Linked DNA regions of Homo sapiens: region 1 is linked to region 2. Evidence: fine-mapped expression QTL. A gene starts in region 2. The other region holds a variant in brackets. All regions are shown on one strand. Distances are from middle to middle.

Region 1 (5,387 bases), 230 kb after region 2:
CTGACGTTTATTCTCCTTCCAAACGTGTTTGTTTTAAAATGTGCTAGATACAGATTTCCAAGAGACAAATCTGATTTTTCCAGCCCATCTTTCTGAGTCAAGTGAGATACCACCTATGTGGCCAGCAGCTTTATACATGGGCTGCCCTGTGCCTTGGTCCAATCAGCTATGACAAGGACACTTGGCATTATCTAGTTTTAAAATTTTGCTAATATAATAGGTGCAGAGTAATGGCCCATTATTGTTTGAATGTGTGTTTCTCTAATTACTGACAAATTGAACATCTTTTCATTGTTGATGGTTTTCAGGGTTCCCTCTTCTGTAAATTTTCTGTTCATAGCTTTTGCCTGTTTTCTCTATTGAGATTGTTGTCTTAGTGTGGAATTTTAAACAACGTGGTCATAAAGGTATTTTTTATATATATTTAAACATTATAATTAAATTTGTTATATTATTAAAGGTTATTAAGATATCCACTAACATATAAAGGGAACCCTATAATTCACACTGCTAGTTGTTTTGGTTTTTATTATGAAATGAAAATACAGAATGTGTGTGAAAATCTCCATTCAGAAATTATGTTCAGTATGAAAGCGTAGAATACCACACCATAATATGATTTTCTAAGACAAATATTTGTTTAGAAGGATTTTCAAACAAATATATTATCATCAAAGAATACATATACACACACATATATATGCTCTAATAGTATACGCACACACATATATATGGAGAGAGAGAGAGAGCTATCTATCTATCTAGCTTCTATTTTAAGTTATACCGTATGCACACCTACACATCAATCAATCTACCTATCTATCATCTGTGTATCATCTATGGAAGGCAAACACAAATGTGCAAAATGCTAACACCTGATGAATCTTAAATGAGAATATTTTCAGTTTATTTTACTATTCTTTGCACTTTTCTATAAGTTTGATTTGTTTTCAAGATACAAAGTTTTAAAAAATGAAATAAAATGAGAATAAAAATAGTGTTTAGAATAGACACAGAGTTAAGGTTAAGATTAGTTGATGAAGACATAACTATTTATCAGAGTTGAAACTAAAGAAGTTAATAAGTTATGGAGTAACTAAAGTGATTACTACCATTACTGTTACTCTGAGGAGGCTACTCTGGTAGAGAGTATTGGAAACATTTTGCACTTTCTTGAAACAAGTTTGCTATTTCCCTACATTTACTGCTTCCCTGTATTCTGATCTTAAACCATTTATCCTCTGGTTCGTATTTTGAAATCCTTATTAGTCTGTTTCCTTAATTCAACAAAATCATCACTGCTTGAAGCAATAGGTTCTTCTCTAGTCACATCTTCTGCTGCAGACTCCACAGCTGGGACCCACCAAAGGATCTGGTCCCTGGCACAACAAAGAAACACGTCATATGACTTAACTTAGAGACTGGAATTGAAGCATGGTTTATGAGGTAGCAAAGACTTTTGTAAAGCTTAGATTGAATTTTCTAATTCCTAAAACAAATAAAATAGAATATCCCAAAGGTTATTCCAAAACCTTGCATATTTAGTTACTCTCACAATGACGTGAACAATGTCAAAATAGGACATTGATGGGAAATGTGACAACTGACTTAGGAGGAGGATTGAAGTATCTCAGTCAAACAAATTGGATTTATTTCTATGATTCCAACCCCAAGAAATATATGCTGGAAAGCAGACTGACCCACAGGCTACTAATCAAATGCGTTCATATCCCCTGAAGAAGTATGACCCTGATCAGTATCCAGAATGACTTTTATAAATCAGAGGTGCCCAAAACCAAAACAAACCCAGCAGAGTTGAGGGTTTTTGGAAATTCACTTATCAAATGAATTTAAAATGAGAAAATGATTATAGAAGAACAAAACCTTGCCAGAGAGCAAATGATAAGAACGTAAACATCAGCAATAAAAAACCGTTCAACAAACTGGAGAGAAAGCCAAACCTATTAACACAAAAACACTGTGTGTAGCCCATTAGTTGTTCCTAGAACCCCCTAGAAATTCTGTATACTCTCTAGGTTAAGAGGAATAAGGAAAATGTGGCAAGAGGTACAGGAAGAAGTTTCAGCTAGTCCTAAGTCTGGAGAGCCCGGTCTTTACTGGCTAATAATAACAACATTGTTTTAAATATTTCAGGTTTATCAAGCTTTGGGTTTGCAAATGACTATGATTGCAGCAGCTTACAGGAACTACTTTAT[C/G]GTAAAATGTGTGTTAATATGTGTCAGTACCAGGTGGGGAAAAAATAATGGTGTTATCCAATAATAACAAAAGAAAAAAAAAACCACCCACAATTAACCCCCTCCCACAGCCCTGTTAACCAGTCCCAAACATATAAATACATCTTGCTGTAGCTAGAGAAAAGTACTCCTGGCTTTTATTAAACCTGCAGTGGGGAGAGATTCTGCAAGCAATACAGAAAAGGCTGCACTTGCTCCCAAGGAATTTGACTGTTTATACTTCATAATGATAAGCTTAAAAAGCGACCTGGAAAGAGAGGGCTGGCTGCTTTCATGCTCCTGTGAGGGGCCACACTTTGTTCTTGGAGAGGCACTCTGACCACATTAATAGAGTGTAGCTCCCATGACCTTTCCCACTTAGCATTGTGTCCTGTGGCAGCAGTGGCCCCCAGGTACTTCCGGGCAACGTGCCACCCTACCCAGTGCAGAAAAAGCACTGGGCTCTGCCGTCACGGCATTGTTGAATTAGTAACGAAACGCACCAGGCTCAGCAAACAAAACCTGGCAAGAAGGATTTTAAAACAAATGCTTCTGGTTTCACCTGAGCCACTGAAACAAATTAGAAGGTGCTGGGTGAAACTGGGCAGCTTCCGTAAACTCTGAAGAAGATCATGCTAAAGCCCTCAGCTGCCAAATGTGCAAATCTCAAAAGAAGTGAAAATTAGAGGGTCACCTTGTGTCTTCTAGAAGTGCTTCTGAAATACATGTTCAGTAAGATTCATTGGTCAAGATAATAAGATGGGCCCAAGTGATGTATTAATACAATCAGGTACACGTTTTAGGATCCAACGGTCCAACAACAAGTGGAAAATACTGTTGAAAAATAAAAATCCCCAATCCGCACTGGAAATAGTAGATGTTCAGTTAAAGGCCTGACAGTGACAGCACGTGCAGGTAGGAAAAATAAACTATGCGTGCTTGCAGAATATTGGATGGGAGCTATAACCCAGAATGGTAATTATTTTACTAAGCCTACCCAGGTCAGAATTCAGTGCCTATGTGTTTGTTTGTTTGTTTGTTTTTGAGATGGAGTCTCGCTCTGTCGTCCAGGCTGGAGTGCAATGGCACAATCTTGGCTCACTGCAATCTCCGCCTCCTGGGTTCAAGCGATTCTCCTGCCTCAGCCTCCCGAGTAGCTGGGATTACAGGTGTCCGCCACCACACCAGGCTAATTTTTTGTATTTTTAGTAGAAACGGAGTTTCACCATGTTAGCCAGGATGGTCTCCATCTCCTGACCTTGTGATCCACCTGCCTTGCCCTCCCAAAGTGCTGGGATTACAGGCATGAGCCACCGTGCCCAGCAGCCTATATTTTTAAAAGTCAGACTCTGGCATCCTAATTGCCAGATCATTGCCTTGAACTGAGAACATTCTTCTGGACATTTCCTGCATCAAAGGAAGACTATTTGAAACATTCCTTGTGAGAGGTCAGGAGATCGAGACCATCCTGGCTAACACGGTGAAACCCTATCTCTACTAAAAATACAAAAAATTAGCTGGGCCTGGTGGTGGGCGCCTGTAGTCCCAGCTACTTGGGAGGCTGAGGCAGGAGAATGGCATGAACCCAGGAGGCGGAGGTTGCAGTGAGCCGAGATCGTGCCACTGCACTCCAGCCTGGGTGACAGAGCGAGACTCTGTCTCAAAAAAAAAAAAGAAAAGAAACATTCCTTGTGAGGTTTAAAGTAGCATGACAAATCATTCCACAACCAACTTTCCTATAGGCATAAAGGTAGATTTTAAAAAATTTATCTGAGAGCTGATACCTGACCTGCATCTTGAAGGACCCATTATTCTCTTGGCATGTGGACTCTTTCCTATATCTTTCCTTCATTAAAGACATGGTTTGCTTCCAACAATTGGAAGCAAACTCAAGTTGTGTTTCAATTTTTGGTAACACATGAGAAAGTCTTATCACAGGATCAGGATTGGCTGCATAGGAGAGAAAGCTCAAATAACAGGGCTTACAAGAGACAGAGCTATATTTTTCTCTCACTTGAAGGATTGAGAAATAAGGAGTTCTAGGCTAGTAGAAAATTGGCCTCATGATTATTAGGACTCTAGCTCCTACCCTCTGTTCTGTCATCTTTTGAAACTGGTTTCTATCCTCAAGAATCCTCGTGGTCCAGAATGGCTACTTGTGCTCCAGCCATCAGGTCCATGTTCCAGGCAAGAAGAGGAGAGGGAGAGCCAAGGGGCACATTTTCCGCTTGAGTTGGCCTCTTTGAAGGAGCTTTTCCCCACCTCCCACCCAGCACTTCTGCTGATATCTCATTGCATCCTGAGTGATAAGTAAGTCTCAAAAACGTGGTCTTTTCAGCCGGACGCCTTTTGGTCCCAGGTAAACCAGTGTTCTACTACTGAGAAACAAATTGATAATAGGGAGTGGATAGACAACAAGCTGCCTCTGCCAGCTCATGTCAGCCTGGGTACAAAGAAAGTACTATCTCATTTCTGGACATTGTCAGTGAGCCTTTATTCCTGGCTGGTCACCTGTCAGTGCAGGGATCACCCAGGCTGACTCGGTGGGTTGCGGAAGCACCCTTCCTTCATTCCTGCCTGGGGGTGTCCTTGCCTATCCAGCCACTGTGCTTAACTCCTCAGCACAGACTCAAAGCATTGCCATCTCTCCTTATACTGGTTTCATATCAATATCTCAAAGTATACTTGTTCATTCACTGTGGAACAAATAAATAAATGGTGTGGATTCAAATATTCTGCAATTTGTTAGCTGTGTGATATGCAAATTGCCTAACCTCTTTGTGCTTCTGTTTCCTCATAAGAAAGGATGATAATATTATCTAATTCTGAGGGCGGTTGTGGCAATTAAATCCATTAATTAGCATAAAAGGGTATTAGGTATTATCTTGAATTTTGTATCTTTGATTTATGGTGCGGCACTGGGTGGGCACGGACCTCCGGGACCTTCCAATACCGTGGGAAACATCAGCTGGACGTGGACCAGAGCGTCAAAAAGCAACACAAATGCATGTGTTCATCAAAAGAATGGTCCAGACGGTGAGGGCCGTGGGCTTCAGCAAAGGAGAAACAGGCACTAGTGTCATCAGTGGGAACTTATCGCAGGCTCCCTGCAACCTCACCTGGACAGCGCGGCGCTGTGTGAACAGCCAGCAG
Region 2 (5,387 bases):
AAAACTGAAGTATACTTCCAAGCAAAATTTATTAGATGTCTATTCAAGAAAAACACAATGACCTTTGCTTGTAAGAATTCAAAGTCAATTACCTGGAAGCCAGGTATGAATAGTTTTTTCTTTTAAAATCAGATACAGAGAGTAGAAACAGTAATTTTTCTTAAATATGACAGGCAACAGATATTGAAGTCTTTTCTCATAAATGGCATCAAAGAGAATTATTCATTTATCAGCAAAGCTGCATGCAGTTGACTTAATTTCAAACCTGAAGCCTTTAAAATATGAAGCTGGTTATGAACTTGACAGAAATCAAGGTAGGCTACTCAACGATGTTTCTTTACCTTCTTCCTAATGAAATTCCCTTGTCATCAGTCAGTAGATATGTACATTTCATTTGGCTTCTACGATCTTTTAACTTCATAGATTTTTGCATAAATGCTATCTGACAGAATCACACTATCTAGGGGTGCTTGTGATCTGTGAGATAAGGAGAGGCTAGTCTGCTGAAAGTGTTGTCGCAGGATAAAGACCAAATTAGGAAACGCCCCTGTTTTCTCAACAACTAGTCTGTACAAAAAAAGAGCAAACATATGTACAAAATTCTAGAGGCTACGTACATTGTGAAAAGATCAATATCACTGTCCATGAAAGAGATGCCATAAAAAGTTTTATCTGTAAGGTGCTCAAGATCCAAAGATGAACAGTTCTTATGCAAAGTCATAAGAAATACAAAGCTAGTTTTCGGAGCAGGTGTAATTCAGGCACTGTGAACCATATTAAACCTTCCAGGTCCCAATATCATTTTTTAAATTTCTGCTTCAGGGCAGAAAATAAAACCTGAATGATTTAACATTGCTTCTAAAAAGTGCCTAATTTATTCCTAGGAAATATTTTACACACACCAGGAAAATCAGGCTCAACATATTCCTGTCCTCAAATGTAGCCAGGATTCTGAGTTCCATAGAAGAAAAATAATTATTATAGTAAAAATAATTGTAGTAATCCTAATCCTTGCTAAAACCAACTTTAATACTTGTGATGCTTCTGTACTCTATTTCTATAAAATAATGTGTGAGATTCTATTACATTTCCATAAAATGTACAACATATCATATGGATTATATGTTCTCATACAATCTCAAATGTGTATGTGTACACACAGTGAAATCTTACCTACTAGTATTGCTTACAGATACTTTCAGGTGTCTGTTAGAATAATTCTTTGCACCTCTCACTAACACTGCTTTTACTTACATTTTTTCAGATAAATAAAACACTAAGAGCTCATTGTTCATGATGCTGATCATTACATTTTAATATAAAATAGCGATGCAACTTTACAACACAATAGTTTTCCCCTGTAGCCTAGCTCAGCCTCTTGTATTGTCATGATTATTACCGAAGGCTTTTATTTACTTACTGTTTGCACTTCTAAAAAATGCAAACAAATTGCAGAAAAAGACTCCTATTTGAAAACTCACATTCAATCAGCAAAATCACACTCATCCAAATTAACTCGCCTCCTCTTGCTTTAAAGGTTGTAATCACTGTGCATATTACAACATGTATGTGCAGGCAAACAATAGCTAAAGTACAGTTACAGTTGTCATATTGTGTAAACCAAGACACTAGGCAAACTTGTGAAAAGAATACACACTGCCAAGCGAAGAATATGAAAATGCAAACCACAGCATTCCCCAATAAACAATTTTCTGGTCGTCTTGGGGGAGAACATCGCCTGGGGGGAGATGTTGAAATGGAGCCACGAGGCTGGACAGCCTCCTGGAGACACTTTTTTTTTTTTTTTTTGCCTCAAATATTTGACCATTTTTAAATATCATGATTTTTTTCTTTCTGATCCCACATTTTGACGTGTCAAAGCTTAGAGCAGGAAGTAGGAATCCACACTTTCACGGAGGGGGACCAGCCTGCCATGTCGTCCCCAGGCTCACAGCAGCGGCGGCTACTCTGCTGGTGGTTTGGTGGCAGGTGGAGATGGTGACGGCGCATTGGAAACCGTAAGGCATGACAACGGGAGGCCCGCGGGGTGTTTCAGGCGCGTTGACGCAGGTGCATGGCTGGCAGGCGGCCTCTACAGAAGGAGGGAGCGCAATTCACAGCCTCTTGACGTAGTTTCCGGGGAAAGTACCAAAGAATTTGGTTCTTCTTGAGGTCCCTGAAAATAGAAGCGAGTCATGAAAGGGGGGTGACAACGATATCAGTTCATACACATGGGCTTGAATACTTCCCATTTACAAGGCCTCGGAAGACAGCAAGCCCCGAGGGGTTTGGAAAAGAAGGCAGGCAACTCACATGAAGCCCATAGGCAGACAAAATAAGCAGTGTTAGCTGGTTGCCTGACGCTCTCACTGCCCCTCCGGCATAAATGCTGCGCTGCCATCGCGGCAGGCTAAACAGAAATGCTGAGCCTCCCAAGCTAAAGGGAAAGTCAGCCCTGCTGAGGAGGGGGGCGGAGGAGCTCAGTCACTGAGGCTGCCACACCAGAGTCGGGGGTGAGGGATCAAGGCGAGGCTGACAGGTGACAGGGTGAGTGGAAAATCCTAAGAGCAAAGCTTCTCAGGGACCAGCAACCCGCGCAACACAGGTGCGACATGAAGACATCATCTGTGGCAGGCTGTCGCTGTTCCAACAGTTTTATCATCTTACAGAAGATCATGGTCAGTGCCACATCATTTATTTAAAAACAGCACTGCCAGAGTCCTTCATCGAGTATACAATTTTTCAACAATTTACAAATCATTAATGAAAAAAAGGATTAAGCACTATTTGTGTGTGGGAGTTCTATCAGTGGCATGATTTTTAACATGGTGTGTGTTTAACCACACGCACAAATGGCTATCATAATTATGTTCGCCTCTGGTTTCAAATAATGTAATTCCTTGGACACTTCTTGTAAAAGTTGGTGCACTAAATTGCTAAATTCTTCTTTAGGCAGCGCAGATGGACCGGATAAGGGTCTCTCAAGCTTCATCTGTCTCCTATATCCTGGCACTTACTGCCTTGGTTTGATGGCTGTTTTTCTTTTTCCTTGGCTAGGCAAGCCATTTTACGTTTCTCCTCCCTCCTCCTCCTCCCTCCTCCTCCTCCTCCTTGTTTTTGAGATGGAGTTTCGCTCTTGTCGCCCAGGCTGGAGTGCAGTGGCATGATCTCGGCTCACTGCAACCTCTGCCTCTTGGGTTCAAGCAATTCTCCTGCCTTAGCCTCCTGAGTGGCTGGGATTACAGGCACCTGCCACCAAGCCCAGCTGATTATTGTACTTTTGGTAGATACGGGGTTTCACCATGTTGACCAGGCTGGCCTCGAACTCCTGGCCTCAGGTAATCCACCCGCCTCGGCCTCCCAAAGTGCTAGAATTACAGGCATGAGCCACCGCACCCGGCCTTTTTTTCTTCTTTTAATGGAAATAAAATCAGAGGCTTGTGGCCGCACCAGGGCCTCAATTCTTTCATGATTTTGCCACCGATGGATGTCTAGAGTGAGCCCTCCTCTCCTCTCACCTTTCCTCTCTTCCATTCTCTGCCCTGCAGCCTGTGTTTCCTTTTCACCTCTTTCTGTGGCCCAGTGTAAAATACTTTTGTCTACAAATGTTTTCCCAGAAGACCTCTCGTCTTTTTTTTTAGGATGGTAAAGATGAAGTTGCCTTTTAAGTGGGAAGAATGGAACGTCTCTCTGCTTCCACCACAAACTAAAGTTAAGGTGAGTCACTGAATGTTCGGGCATCTACGTCAGACCTAGGAAACGGGAGAGCTGTTCACTTAATCTCACTCCCTCTGAAATTAGATTCTCACTGTGGACAACTAACATTTTCCACAGCACAGAGCGTTGATATTTCTCTTCTGGGGACCATTTGTTGTTGTTGTTCTTAGATCTCAATCTTTCCTGGTTTTTGCTATTTAAAGAAATTGTCTTCTCTCAGTTGAGTTGGAAATAAAGCTCGCAGAAAATCACACATAGCTGAAGCAGTGAATACTAAACTATATTAAAAATGCAATAGCCTTGGGATTACATTGTGCATATGAATGTCTGAAAGATCAAAGGCATTACGAATTCAAAGGAAGCTCGGCCATCACAGCAAACCACGGGAGTGAGCAAACTCAAGCAAATTACAAAATAGCCGAAGGTGCCTGAGGAAGAAGCGCACATACCCACAAACCAGCCGTCATCACACTTTTCCATGACATCAATGACATCACTTTCTCTGAGCTCCAGCTCATCTTCATTCCTGGGAGTATAGTTATACAGAGCCTGAAACCTTAAACAGGACAAGGGAATGTGTTTAAAAACATCTTGACACCTTCATGAAATATAGAAGATAGAACAATATTCATTCTTCCTTTAACATTCCTATTCTTAACAACATTCTGTTGGGTGGTACAAGCCTGGTAAGCATGTAAATAGCATTCTATTGGATGGTACAAGCCTGGTAAGCAGGTACATAGCAATATGTAGATCTTCACAGGCATTAGAACACTCTAACAACATTTTGAAACTCACGAGGAATATCCATGAAAATTGTAACATTCATAAATTGGATTAAAATATGTCAACATGTATAAGTCAGACCCGCATTTCAGTTGTCCAGCCATCTAACGTCTATCATTTAGACATTAAATAATAGTACAAAATATAAAATAAGTGATATTTGTATTATTTAACTGTTTAAAAACAAGAAGGAATCACAATTTTAGCTAGCCATAATCAGAAGCAAATAATGGGGGCTTGAGAATTGAATTTTCAAAGGTTCTAAATGGAGATAGACAAAATGTGTCAGACATGTCTTTTTAATCACTCTGTGTGAATTACTATACAAAGGAAAATTATTTTTTTTACTAAGAGGAATTCTTTAGATCAGTTTAATGTTATGGTTTGGATCAGTGTTTTCTGAGGATGTAGAATTGGAAGATTTGATGTAATTAGCCTATGAAGTTGAGTAGATGTATTCTATGTGCAGTTATTACTGATTCCATTTCAAGCAGACTATGGACATAAGTCTCTTTTTAAAATGAGTCCCAGAAAAATTGTATTTGATTTTAAAACTCTCTCTTGAAATAATTTTATATAAAAAAGAATTATTGATAGAATGCTATCACTTTCCTTTCCCGGCCTGAATTCTTTGACAGCATATACTGTGGTGGAAATTGATCAATAATGAATTCAGACACTGAATTTGTGGTAAGAAAACACCATACATTATAATAAATAGTAACATGGGCTGGTGTTTTTGGAAAATGAAGGCGAAATTACTGTAGCTGAGAAGGTCAAGAAGAATTTGATAGGCAGTTAACATGAAAACTTCTTCATAATAGTACTAAAATATTACCAGTACTGTGAGGGGGTTTTTAAAAATTGGGAATTTGTTTCTGCTG

Which allele goes with the higher level. Alleles are on the strand shown, and positions count from the first base shown. SD is a standard deviation of normalised expression in the study named.
For the expression in pancreas of the gene that starts at base 2,413 in region 2, G is the low allele of the variant in region 1 and C is the other (small effect, 0.20 SD a copy in GTEx).

What was found. PIP is the estimated chance that this variant, and not a neighbour inherited with it, causes the effect. A credible set is the group of variants that fine-mapping cannot tell apart.
Region 1: its variant is the best candidate, but not a certain one, in a credible set for the expression of SORBS2-AS1 in pancreas (GTEx, PIP 0.84).

The regions. Positions count from the first base shown.
Region 1 is chr4:185,814,930-185,820,316 of GRCh38, forward strand. It overlaps a transcript of SORBS2 not described here. Among named protein-coding and RNA genes, the nearest start is that of SORBS2, 5.4 kb to the left of the region's middle. The variant C/G (reference allele first, on the strand shown) is at 2,217.
Region 2 is chr4:185,585,513-185,590,899 of GRCh38, forward strand. It overlaps SORBS2-AS1 (SORBS2 antisense RNA 1), which reads left to right and starts at 2,413. Exons shown (of 4, transcript NR_186082.1): 1 at 2,413-2,678; 2 at 3,642-3,717. SORBS2 (sorbin and SH3 domain containing 2) reads right to left here. Exons shown (of 27, transcript NM_001395207.1): 26 at 4,167-4,273; 27 at 11-2,176. The coding sequence ends at 2,115. RefSeq lists enhancers at 1,510-2,709, 1,988-2,067.